Regions from separate parts of the Homo sapiens genome. Here all the other regions are reported to be linked to region 1. Evidence: microRNA targets listed by miRTarBase, many of them from high-throughput screens and not tested one by one. Region 1 holds a microRNA gene; each other region holds the end of a gene's coding sequence.

What was found. The annotated mature microRNA hsa-miR-3622a-5p reads CAGGCACGGGAGCUCAGGUGAG and lies in region 1 at 1,817-1,838, shown strand. An mRNA with a match to its seed (bases 2 to 7 or 8) in the 3' UTR can be bound and repressed. Matches are read on the target gene's strand: a 7mer-m8 pairs with bases 2 to 8, a 7mer-A1 pairs with bases 2 to 7 and ends in A, and an 8mer does both.
Region 2: the mRNA of RHOG is a reported target of hsa-miR-3622a-5p. Seed matches in the 3' UTR shown: 7mer-A1 at 885-891.
Region 3: miRTarBase lists ATP6V0B as a target of hsa-miR-3622a-5p. Seed matches in the 3' UTR shown: 7mer-m8 at 324-330.

What each region holds. Positions count from the first base shown.
Region 1 is chr8:27,699,874-27,704,021 of GRCh38, forward strand. It overlaps MIR3622A (microRNA 3622a), which reads left to right and starts at 1,804; the gene lies at 1,804-1,886. MIR3622B (microRNA 3622b) reads right to left here and starts at 1,894; the gene lies at 1,800-1,894. LOC124901920 (a long non-coding RNA gene) reads left to right here and starts at 1,097. Exons shown (of 2, transcript XR_007060869.1): 1 at 1,097-4,148. It also overlaps a transcript of SCARA3 not described here. RefSeq lists a silencer at 3,261-3,406.
Region 2 is chr11:3,823,961-3,827,960 of GRCh38, reverse strand. It overlaps RHOG (ras homolog family member G), which reads left to right. Exons shown (of 2, transcript NM_001665.4): 2 at 1-983. The coding sequence ends at 398. It overlaps PGAP2 (post-GPI attachment to proteins 2), which reads right to left. Exons shown (of 7, transcript NM_014489.4): 4 at 3,826-4,000; 5 at 3,585-3,691; 6 at 2,833-2,941; 7 at 1,590-2,633. The coding sequence ends at 2,503. Among named protein-coding and RNA genes, the nearest start is that of RHOG, 15 kb to the left of the region's middle.
Region 3 is chr1:43,977,705-43,981,704 of GRCh38, forward strand. ATP6V0B (ATPase H+ transporting V0 subunit b) reads left to right here. Exons shown (of 8, transcript NM_004047.5): 8 at 277-591. The coding sequence ends at 303. B4GALT2 (beta-1,4-galactosyltransferase 2) reads left to right here and starts at 1,506. Exons shown (of 7, transcript NM_003780.5): 1 at 1,506-1,807; 2 at 3,405-3,769; 3 at 3,985-4,000. The coding sequence starts at 3,457. RefSeq lists enhancers at 208-799, 800-1,390, 1,391-1,982 and silencers at 1,400-1,499, 1,770-1,879.

The sequences.
Region 1 (4,148 bases):
AACCACATTGAGATCCAGAAATAGATTTACACATATATATCAATTGATTTTCCCCAAAGACACCAATGATTTCAAAGTCTTTTCAACAAATGATTTTTATATGCAAAAAACAAACTTTGATATTACCTCATATAATACACAAAAATTCATCTGATATGGACCACAAACCTAAATGTAAAAACTAAATCTATAAAACTTCTTAAAAAATACATAAGATAATTTTTGTGACTTTAAGAAATATGGTCATGAAAGTCACAAACCATAAGAGAAAAATTTTGATAAATTGGATTATATCAAAATTAAAACCCTCTATTCTTTAAAATATCCCTTTAAGAACATGAAAAGAAAAAAAATCCCAGAATAAGAGAAAATATTTGCAATACATATATGAGACAAAGGACTTGCTTTCAGGATACATAAAGAACTCATACATCTCAATAAGAAAAAGACATGCAGCTCAAATTAAAAATGGATGAAAGTCCCAGCACTTTGGGAGGCCGAGATGGGCAAATCACTGGAGGCCAGGAGTTCAAGAACAGCCTGGCCAACATGGTGAAACCCTGTCTCTACTAAAAATACAAAAATTAGCTGGGCATGGTGGTGGGCTCCTGTAGTCCCAGCTACTTGGAAGGGTGAGGCAGGAAAATCACTTGAACCCAGGAGGTGGAAGTTGCAGTGAGCTGAGATCACACCACTGCACTCCAGCCTAAGCAACAGAGCAAAACTCTACCTCAAAAATAAAAAAAAAAAAAAAGATGAAAGACATGAACAGACATTTTGCAAGAAAAGTATATGAATGACCATGTAAGCACATGAAAAAGTGTTCCAGCTTCATTAATCATCAGGGAAATGCAAATGAAACCACTCTGAGATACCACTAGAATGGCTAAAATTTCAAAAACCAACAATACAAAATGTTGTGAGGATGTGGAGCAACGAGAACTCTCATGCATTAATGGTGAAACTGTGAAGTGGTACAACCCTTTTGGAAAAGTTAGGTGATTTCCTATAAATCTGAACACATACTTAACCTATGATCCAGCAATTTCACTTCTGGGTTTTTACCCAAGAGAAATGAAAATGTTTTTCTATACCAAAATTTGTACATACTATTCACAACAGCATTGTCCAGAATAGCAAAAAACTGGAAACAAGTCAAATGTTCATCAATAGGCAAATGCATGGAAAAATTATGATAAATCCATACTCACCAGTAAAAAAAAAACAAAAAAACTAGTGATATGCAAACCAACTTGGATAAATCTCAAAAGCACATTGAGTAGAGGAAGTCACTCAAAAGAGTACAGACTGTATTATTCCATTGAGATGATGTTCTAGAAAAACTAAAATGAATCTATAGTTACAGAAATCAGGTAAGTGGTTACCTGGGATGGGATGGTTAGGATGGGATTAACTACAAAAGAGAAATAGGGAAGTTTCTGGGGTGCTATAAATATTTTGATTGATTTAACAGTTACTGAGTGTATATATTTGTTAAAATTCATCAAAGTCTACATTGAAGTGTATGCATTGTATTATATGTAAATTATGCCTCAGTACAGTAGATTTTTTTAAAATGTTCTCGTAGCTCCCCATTGAACACAGGTGTCATCATGGCAAGACATTTCCTAGCTGAGAGATGCTTTTTCATTCTTTCATTCAAAAAGTAGCTTTTTCTTTCCTTCCTTCCTTCCTCTCTTTCTTTCTCTTTCTCTCTTTCTTTCTTTTCTTTCTTTCTCTTTTTTTTAGTGGCAAGGTCTTGTTTTGTCACCCAGGCTGGAGTGCAGTGGTGTGATCATAGCCAATAGAGGGTGCACAGGCACGGGAGCTCAGGTGAGGCAGGGAGCTGAGCTCACCTGACCTCCCATGCCTGTGCACCCTCTATTATATCACTCGTATGTCTACCATTGTTTGCAGATCGTGAGCTGCTTGATGACTGATGCTAGGGTGACCAACCAACCAAGTATGCCCCAAACCAAAGGGTTTCCTGGGCTTCCTGAGCTAAGGGATGTTCAGTGCTAAAACTGGGAGGCCCAGGCAAACGGGGAAAATGGGTCACCTTATCTGAGACCTTGTGCTACTCATCTCTGAAAGCATTCCCAGGCTTAGCCCCCTATCAGGTGGGTGATGTATGCTCAGTAAATGTTTCCTGAAAGGCTAGAATATGTGTGAGTAGGACACTTGAAATTCTCCTTTGGTTTCCCATGCAAACTGAGTCCTACAGTGAGAAAGCCAAGCGTAGTGGCAGATCCTGCCCCAGACACCAGGCTCGCTTGGGTCCTGCCTAGGGCGCCAGCCTCTCTCCCATGTCATTGGTGTTCTGGAAAGCAGATAAACAACTGACTTCAAGTCCTATTTAAGTTTTATGGGGTAGCCAAGGTCTTCCAGGGCTCCATCTCCAGGAAGCCCCCTCCCTGCAGCCTGGCTGGCTTTTCTTCTTCTTCTGGTGAAGTCATCCGACCCCAAGTGGCCCACAGTTTCCTTTCTCTCCACACCTCCCAAACCCGCTGCCCAGTCCTGGCACTGCCTGGGGTTACTGCTGACCTTTCAGTGCTGTTTGCTCAGAAAGTGCCTTTATGTCAACACAAACAGCCTTCAGGTTTGCCAGGGCCTGGCTCCTTTTCTCCCTGGGGTCCAGGGTAGAAAAACAATAACCAGTGGGAAGGAGAGCGAGCCATAGGGGAGTGACGCGTCCCTGGACCTTGGGTCTCTGTCCTCTCAGCCCTGTCCCTCAGGGCCTCCTTTGTCAGAACTCAGTTCTGTGGGGAGAGGGTACTGGGGAGGCAGCGGCTTTAAACAATGCCACAGTGTCTGGCAGGGAGCTGCGTGCTTGACCTGATTAGGCTCAGTGAGCCCGGGGGAGGGAGGGAGTGAAGGCAGGCTTGGGAAAGTGTTTTCCATCCCCACCCAACAGACTTTGCTTCCTTGTATCTCTGCCAAGACCTCTTTTTGGGGAGGAAAGGCCGAATCGCCTCATTTCTACAGGGGCACCTTGGCCTCGCTCCTCTAAACCTGGGTAAGCTCTTTGACCTGCCTGTCCCCCTCCCTCTTGTCTTTCCTTCCCACCAACCAGCTCCCAAACAGAAAGTGTTTTTCACACTCGCAGCTCTCCCTCCTCAGGCCCTGCCAGGCCCGAAGCTGGGCCCAGAGGCCAGCTGGCACCCACATGAAAGGCCTTCCTGTCGAGAACTGGCATGGAACCCAGGGCCTCAAGGCTGCCCACACCACAGCCCTGGCCCAGGGTCCAGAGCACAGGGCCACGGAAACTTGGCCACAAGGCTCTGGGGAGAAAAACAGCCTGAGCCGCACAGGAGAGGAGCCTCCCATCCCCGCAGCCTGGCTGGGCACATCAAGGGAGAAAGCGCAGTGCCCAGAATCCTTTGAACATGAAGCCGCAGCACCTGCACCTGGCAGAGGACCCGGGAACCAGGGATTCGTGCTGGGGGCAGCACTTGGGGTTTGTTAGTGCAGGTGGAGAGAAAACAGGAGAGTAGCAATTTCCAACCCATCAGCAGAAAAAAGTGAAAGCTGAGAAGTCAGGGTGAGGCTGGAGGGGACAGGATGGGGTGGCTGGGTGGGCCCAGAATTGAGATCTGATTTGCAAAATGGTGGCAAAAGGCAACAGACTGCGGCTCCCTTGAGAGAAAAACCTGGTCTCCCAACCGGCAATGGGTGTGGTTATCAAACGCACAGCCATGCCTGTTCCCAGGATGCAGGTGCAGTCTGGATAAACTGAGACTAGGGTTGGGGGGGATCTGTTCAAGGTTGCACAGCACCTTCAAGATGGGGCTTGAACTACAAACCCAGGACTCCGGACCTGGAAAGAATCTCCTAGGAGGTTCTGGAGGGTTCATTCTTGGACAGAAATCTGGGAGAACCTACAGCAAAATGGCAACAATGTGATTGTGGGTAACTTAAAGTTTGTGGTTTTGTGTGTGGTTTTTTGTTTTTTGCTTACCTGTGCTTTCTACTTTTTTTTTTTTTTTTTTTTTTTTTTTTTTACAGTGAGAAAAAAATACCTGTGGGGAAAAAAACATAATGGAAAATAAGAGTTTTGATGAAATGATACACTACACATAAGGTGTTAAGCAGGATGAGGGGCTGGCATTTAATAATGGATAAATAAAGGTTAAAAGTAATTAGCTTAA
Region 2 (4,000 bases), not on the chromosome of region 1:
GCCAGGAGGAGTATGACCGCCTCCGTACACTCTCCTACCCTCAGACCAACGTTTTCGTCATCTGTTTCTCCATTGCCAGTCCGCCGTCCTATGAGAACGTGCGGCACAAGTGGCATCCAGAGGTGTGCCACCACTGCCCTGATGTGCCCATCCTGCTGGTGGGCACCAAGAAGGACCTGAGAGCCCAGCCTGACACCCTACGGCGCCTCAAGGAGCAGGGCCAGGCGCCCATCACACCGCAGCAGGGCCAGGCACTGGCCAAGCAGATCCACGCTGTGCGCTACCTCGAATGCTCAGCCCTGCAACAGGATGGTGTCAAGGAAGTGTTCGCCGAGGCTGTCCGGGCTGTGCTCAACCCCACGCCGATCAAGCGTGGGCGGTCCTGCATCCTCTTGTGACCCTGGCACTTGGCTTGGAGGCTGCCCCTGCCCTCCCCCCACCAGTTGTGCCTTGGTGCCTTGTCCGCCTCAGCTGTGCCTTAAGGACTAATTCTGGCACCCCTTTCCAGGGGGTTCCCTGAATGCCTTTTTCTCTGAGTGCCTTTTTCTCCTTAAGGAGGCCTGCAGAGAAAGGGGCTTTGGGCTCTGCCCCCCTCTGCTTGGGAACACTGGGTATTCTCATGAGCTCATCCAAGCCAAGGTTGGACCCCTCCCCAAGAGGCCAACCCAGTGCCCCCTCCCATTTTCCGCTACTGACCAGTTCATCCAGCTTTCCACACAGTTGTTGCTGCCTATTGTGGTGCCGCCTCAGGTTAGGGGCTCTCAGCCATCTCTAACCTCTGCCCTCGCTGCTCTTGGAATTGCGCCCCCAAGATGCTCTCTCCCTTCTCCAATGAGGGAGCCACAGAATCCTGAGAAGGTGAATGTGCCCTAACCTGCTCCTCTGTGCCTAGGCCTTACGCATTTGCTGACTGACTCAGCCCCCATGCTTCTGGGGACCTTTCCTACCCCCATCAGCATCAATAAAACCTCCTGTCTCCAGTGGCCCCGGCTCCTCCCTGTGTGCTGGGCATTAGCGGGTGGGCATGGGCTAGGGCTCCCCAGAGACTGGGAGCCTTTTGTTTCTTCTAGTAGACAATAGGCTTCATTGTGGTCCCCTCACCCCTCAATTTCCCTAACAAAGCTCTAGGCTCCCTTGGAGGGGGCAGTCTTGCTCTGGGGCCCAGTCACAGATGCTGTAGTGGACTCAGACACAAAACCTGAGGAAAGACTTCTTGATCTTAGGGCTCAGAAAGGGAGAGGTTCAGAGCCATTAGTCTAAAGGCAGATGCTCCCACAGTCATGCATGTGACAGCTGTACCTCACATCCCCAAGAGGACAGCTTTAACAACAAGAGTTGGAATTTGAACCCAGGTCTCTGTCTCAACTGAAGACTTCCAGGTACCCTAGCTTGCAGTCCTAGAATCATTACAGATAGCTCACTCACTCCTGCTCACCAAAATAAAGGCTTAGACCAGCTTTAGGAGACTCCAGACCTAAGGGGGACTGGGGGGTTCTGCTAGGAATCATACCCTGCCGTGGACTTACTCCCTCCCCATTCTTGAGCCTGTTTCTCTCCCAGTTCCTATCAAACAAGATGAGCCCCAAGACTAGCAAGCCTAGGCAACTGTTGGCCCAAAAAAAAAATTTATTTTCCTTTCAAATAAAATGTACAACCAAAATTTAGGGTTTGGAGCAGTAGGGAAGACAGGAGATACCAGGGAGCCCATTTTACAGTAGAGATCTGCATCTGACCCCTCTATCCCATACCTTTGCAAAGGAGGGGAGGGGTCTACAAGCCAGAACTTTCAGAAGAGAAGAAAATACATGCTGTGCTGGTGCTGTTTCTGGAGCAGGTCATCCTTTAGGTATAGAACACCACCTCCACCCGATGACATCAGAACCACTGACTGGTAGAGTCCTTGGAAATCATACAGTCCACCCATCCCCCGCCAGACACATGGACACACCGAGGCTCAGATGGGGAAGGGTACATACCCTAGGGCACACACCAAATCAAAAAGGTGAAGTCAGGACTAGAACACCTGAGCAACTTTAGCAGGGGACTGTGGCCACAGGCCTGGATGTGCACAGTAGATCATGAAATACATTAGTCCTATGAATGACCCCCGTGCAGAGAAATGGCTGTGGTTGTCAGGGAGCAGCCACTGCTCAGGGGCTCCTGACCTCAGTGAAAGGTGACTGTGTAAAGGCCAGAAACTGGATGGTGGTCATGAACCTCAGGACGTTTTTTTTTTTAGCACCAAATGGTGGAGCTCTCTGCCAGCTCAGCTTCTTGGGGCCTCTCAGGTAAAGGTGATGTTTGAGGACCCCACGCCCATATGAGGGGTGGAGAGGAGAAGCCAGCAGCACTGGGGTGAGCCTTGGCCTACACCCTTCCTTCTTACCCTTCCCCCATCTTCAGTAAGGCCAAGAGAGGATGTGGGGTGGGGAAGGCCAGAATGGTATCGTGTTTCTTGTTTCTGGGCAGTGGGCTGCGTCCTCCCAAGCAGGACTGAAGGGTTCAGAATCGCTTTTCCTCAGGCTGAGAGGTTATGAGCAGCTCCTTGTTCCCGAAGTCCCACCAGGCCGTCATGTGGAACGCCATGTTGGTTAAGACAACAGTGTACTCCAGGATGGCAAAGATGGTGTACACTGTTGTGAGGACACAAGGAACAGGACATGGTGAACTTCCAGCTACCCGCTCAGAGGCCTCTTGATAAATCACACCACCATTGGTCTGCCACAGAGAACACAATGGCAGCCAGTCCCCAAGACCATTGCCCATTATCAAAAACATCATTGCTGCCCCGCAGCCACTCATGACCGCCTGTGGATCCTATCCTGGCCTCACCTCCAGCCTCACAATACATGTTGTGCCGAAAGTAGACAGCCAGCGCCGAGAAGAAGGAGATGAAGTTGATGATGAAGAGCCGCTGTTTCCAGCTGTAGGACTTGCGATCCTAGGGAATGGGCTGTCTGATCACTCTGCAGCTTGCTGGGTATGAGAGCGTGGGCTCCCCTCTCAGCCCTAACTCCTAAGGGCTGGGCCTTATCTCCCTTGGCTCCCACTAGCGGTCATGGAAGGGAGCACAGGCAGGGGCAGCAAGAATGACGACTATGTGTTCACGTCCCTGCCTCTGGGGGAGTGATGGGCCGAGGAGCAGTGGTATTCCTGCCGCTTCCACTTCAGGGGGATGGAGTATGAAAGTTACATGGAGTCACCCACCAACCCCACCTCCAAATACTGTGGGGGAAAAGAAACCCATGTACATGGGTGGGGCGCTGGAATTATGACAGACCAGTCCTCTGACACTGTTCCTAACTCACTGCCGCCTAGATGCGACTCCTCATTCTATCCCCATTTGCAGCCTCCATCTCTTCTATTCTCCAGTCTCCCACACTACCCAAACACAGTGCTATAGTCCTAGATTCTGACCAACCACCCTCAGTTTGTTCCCAAGCCCCAGCCCCAACCCCAGCACCCCTCTGCCAGGGTTCCCATTAGAACTCAGTTCCCACCTCACCATTACCCGAATCCTGAGGACAGATGTCCTTGATTTTCTTCTGGGCTGCCTTGGAGCCCCCGCTAGGGATAGACCGTACCTCCTGACTTACTGTGTGCTTCTTGGTCAACCGCCAGAGAATGCAGGTGAGGAGCATGTGCCCGAGGGATGAGGCAATGAACACAATGAAAGCATTTTCGTGGATGGCTGGAGGGAAAGAGGATTGGGAGCCACATTGCAGGGAGTGCCCACACCACGAAGTAGGAAGGTCCGAATGTGGTAGGGGCAGGCCCGTCCCCTCAGGGAACACTTCCCCACTCCTCCCTCATCCAGGCACCCACTGAAGTCCTCGGAGGAGGAGACATAAGTGAGCACTAGCAACGCGAGGTTCTCCACGACATTGAGGCCGAAGTTGAGGCGGCAGAGCGGGCGATAGCAGGAACACGGGGAGGTGCAGCTGAGGTAGTGGTTCCAGTAGGCGAAGGCCACCAAGAAGCGAGGCGCCGAGTGCAGGCC
Region 3 (4,000 bases), not on the chromosome of region 1:
GCCTGAGGGTCTGAGTGTGACTGTGGGTGCTTGACTGAGTTGATTCTTAGTGACTAGCTTTATCCATATGCCACTTCTCTCCGTCTGTCCCACAGCGTAACTCTGTGGTTGTCTGTCCCTGTCTGCCTTGTCTGTCACAGTGTGTCCATCCTGGTTAGTCATATATCTCTTGTGGTCTGTCCATCCAACCATGTGCTAGATGTCATCTTCTATCATTTGTCACTGCCTTACCTATTCCTCTGTCCCTGCCTGATTTCTCCTGTTCTTTTTTTGCAGACCTCCAGAGTGAAGATGGGTGACTAGATGATATGTGTGGGTGGGGCCGTGCCTCACTTTTATTTATTGCTGGTTTTCCTGGGACAGCTGGAGCTGTGTCCCTTAGCCTTTCAGAGGCTTGGTGTTCAGGGCCCTCCCTGCACTCCCCTCTTGCTGCGTGTTGATTTGGAGGCACTGCAGTCCAGGCCGAGTCCTCAGTGCGGGGAGCAGGCTGCTGCTGCTGACTCTGTGCAGCTGCGCACCTGTGTCCCCCACCTCCACCCTCAACCCATCTTCCTAGTGTTTGTGAAATAAACTTGGTATTTGTCTGGGTCAGTGCAGCTTCTGTTGCCCTCTTGCGTCACCGTTCACAGAGGAAGGGTAAAGAGGCCTGTACGCCTCAGCCTCATGCCAATCCCTTGTCAGCTTTCTGACTGCACACTTCTGATCTGCACAGAGCTTGCTCCTAGGTGGGGAGGCACGGGTGCTGGGTGGACTCTAACCCCCAAACAGACTTGTTTGGGGATGAGGGAGTGTGCAGATAGGGGCCCCTGGGTGTGTTTGTGCCTGTAGTCCTTCTAGGCCCGTTTGCTCAGGGCTCTGACTGACCACCATGCCCGAATTGTCTGACAGCATCTACTTACCTGGTTGTACAGTCGGGCACCATCATCTCCGTCCTTGTGAGGCCTGGAGCCTAGGCAGTGGTCTCTGCCTCCAGTGATGGTCCTGTCCTTCTAGCAGCAGCCCCTCCCAGAAACCTCTACTCTGATCCTTGTTCCCAGGGCCCAGGGCAGCTCCTCCCACCCCATCCAATCTCGTTTTCTCCTTCCCTGACCCTGTTTCCTGTTACCCCAGAAGCCCCAGCCACCTCCAGCCCACGCCTTTAAGGGTCCTGCCCCCTCTCTGCTGGCCGACCTTGAATCTTGGTCCAATTAAAGAGTTGACAAATCCCTAGCCCCGCAGCCTGAGTCCGCCCAACCTCCAGGTCCCCTTCCTGGGGAGTTCGCGCTCCAATGCAATCCCCACTCCCCGCTAAGGGACTCCACGGTCTGCACCCGCTCGCCGGTCCGACCTCTAAGCCCACCCTTTGGACGAGCCTGACCCATTTCCTCCCGCGCTCCCAGGTCCGTGCCTCCTGGGTGCCCGGGTTCGGCCGCCGGCAGGGCGGGCTCGCAGCGGCGCGCGGCGGGTGCGGGCGTGCTGGAGGCGGGGGCCGCGGGGGCGCGCGCGCGGGCGCGCGGGCCGGGCCTGCCCCTCCGAGGCGCCGTAGCGCGGGAGGGAGGCGGCGGCGCTGTGGTCCGTGGGTCCGCCGGTCCGTGGGTCTGCCCGGCCGCCCGGCCCCGCCCTGCCCCCCGGGGCGGCTCGGCTCCATGGCCCGCGGCGGCGGCGGCGGCGGCGGCGGCGGGAGGCGACCCGGGGGCCGCGGTGGCCGCTGACCGGGCGGCGGGAGGCGGCGGGGCCGGGCCATGGGGGACGGAACCGTCCGCAGCCGCCGGAGCCGGGAGCCCTGCCCAAGTCGGAGCGGCGTCCCCTGCTGAGCCCCGAGCGCCGGGTGAGAGGAGGGCGCGCGCGGCCCCCACCCAGGGCCCCGAGATTCCAGACCCAGCCCCGCGAGGGGCACCCCGAGCGCGGCCCCGAGATCCCAACCCAGGAGCCGGTGAGAGAGGCGCCGGCGGCCAGACCCCGGCCTGGCTGCCCCCACCCCGCCCCCACTCCGGCGCCCCTCCTGGGCTTCTCCGCCCGCGTCCAGCCGGCCTCCCTCATTGTCCTCGCTCGCCCCGGCCTCGTGGCGCGGGGAGGCGTTCCATACACGTTTCCCCTTGGCCTTTGCCTCATCCGCTGCCCTCCACCCACTCCCCCTGCCCCCAGGCTCCACACCCACCCGGTCTGTGCGGCCTGCCCGTCCGCGGGTGCCACGTGTTCAGCCTGCCAGCCCCGCCCAAACGCACCCCTCAGCCTGGCCGCCAGCCTGACCCAGAACCCCTGCGCCGGAGGGAGGGTGGGAATGTCTGCACGTGGGTCTGGGTGTGAGCTGTCTGAGAGTCTGGATGTATGGCTGTGGAAGTCCAGGAGCAGTGGCCTTGTTTGTGAGTGTGGGACTTAGTGTGTTACTGTCACCCGGGTGTGTCTGTGACTGTAGTTCTCTGTGTGTCTGAGTGTGGGTGACCAGCTGGGACCAGGGTGTCCCTGTGATTCTGTGTGCCTGTGAGACTCACCCTGCTCCCTGAAGCACTGCCAGAAGTGGCTGCCGCTCTCTTGGAACCACAGCTGGAGCCATCGCCCAGGCAAGACCCCCTTCCTGCCATGCCCAGTGCTGTGCCCATCTCCAGGCCCAAGCATCCCGTTCCGGGAATCAGAACCAGCTGTGCTGGGCAGGACCCAGAGTCTTGGTCCCAGTCCCAAGGGGCTGGCTTTGAGGTCTTAAGTGAGGGGTGTCCCCTGCCTTGCCCCGTATTTTGACGTTTTGCTCCAGTGGGAAGGGATTCTGTAAACATCCAGTCTGTATTTGGGCCCCCCGGATGCTGAGGGCAACTTCCCAGCCTGGTCCCAGTTGGCCTGGCCTGCTTGTCGCTGGGATCTGAATGACCAAACCACTTCCCACCATGGCTCCTGGAAGGACTAAATGAAGTCATGAGTATAAAGTGCTCCTGCATGGTAGGTGCACAGTATTCCGTCTCTTCCCTCTTCCCCAAGCCATGAGTTCTGGGTTAAGGATGCTGCCATGTGAGGTGTCTGTTCTCAGGGGCACAGGGGCACATGGGGGTCTATAGGTAAACATGTCTCCATGCTTAGGTACAAACCAGTGTGGTTAGAGTTCACGTGTCTGTGTTCCTGGGAATGCGTGAGTGTGTGTGTAGAGTTGTGCAATAAGGGTGAGTGCCTGAGTGTGTGTGTCAGTGAGGTGGAGGAAGGTAAATGTATGTGGCTTAGTAGTGGGGTGTGCTTGAGGATGTGAGTACTGAGTTGCCGGGAACTGTGCCTGGGTGTCTGTTTGGAGGTAAATTCTTGAGTCTGTGAGTGTGAAAGGGTATGAGCAGGTCAGTGTGAGGTGTGGCCCACGAGTGTGAGCAGCTGAGTGGGAGGTAGGTGGGCAGCCTTGCCTGTCCTGCCCTGACCTGCTGGATCTGTTTCCCTCCCACCCTGCTCAGGCCAGCAGCCGGATGCCCGGGCCCACTGGGCGGGCCAGTGGCCGCCTGCGGGATGAGCAGACTGCTGGGGGGGACGCTGGAGCGCGTCTGCAAGGCTGTGCTCCTTCTCTGCCTGCTGCACTTCCTCGTGGCCGTCATCCTCTACTTTGACGTCTACGCCCAGCACCTGGCCTTCTTCAGCCGCTTCAGTGCCCGAGGCCCTGCCCATGCCCTCCACCCAGCTGCTAGCAGCAGCAGCAGCAGCAGCAACTGCTCCCGGCCCAACGCCACCGCCTCTAGCTCCGGGCTCCCTGAGGTCCCCAGTGCCCTGCCCGGTCCCACGGCTCCCACGCTGCCACCCTGTCCTGACTCGCCACCTGGTCTTGGTGAGCCTGGAGGGTAGGGCCTGCCTGTGGGGAAACAGGGTTTTATTGGTTTGACTAGAGAAATGGCATCTGGACCCAGGGGTGTGCCAGGGGTCCAGGTCTGTTGTAAGAGGGCTATTCTTGGGGTTCCCTAGCCCACCCCCAGGCTGAGGGTGGGGGCTGGTATCTGTGGATTCTGGCCAATGCCCTGATTCCTGACACTGTCCTGTCTGCAGTGGGCAGACTGCTGAT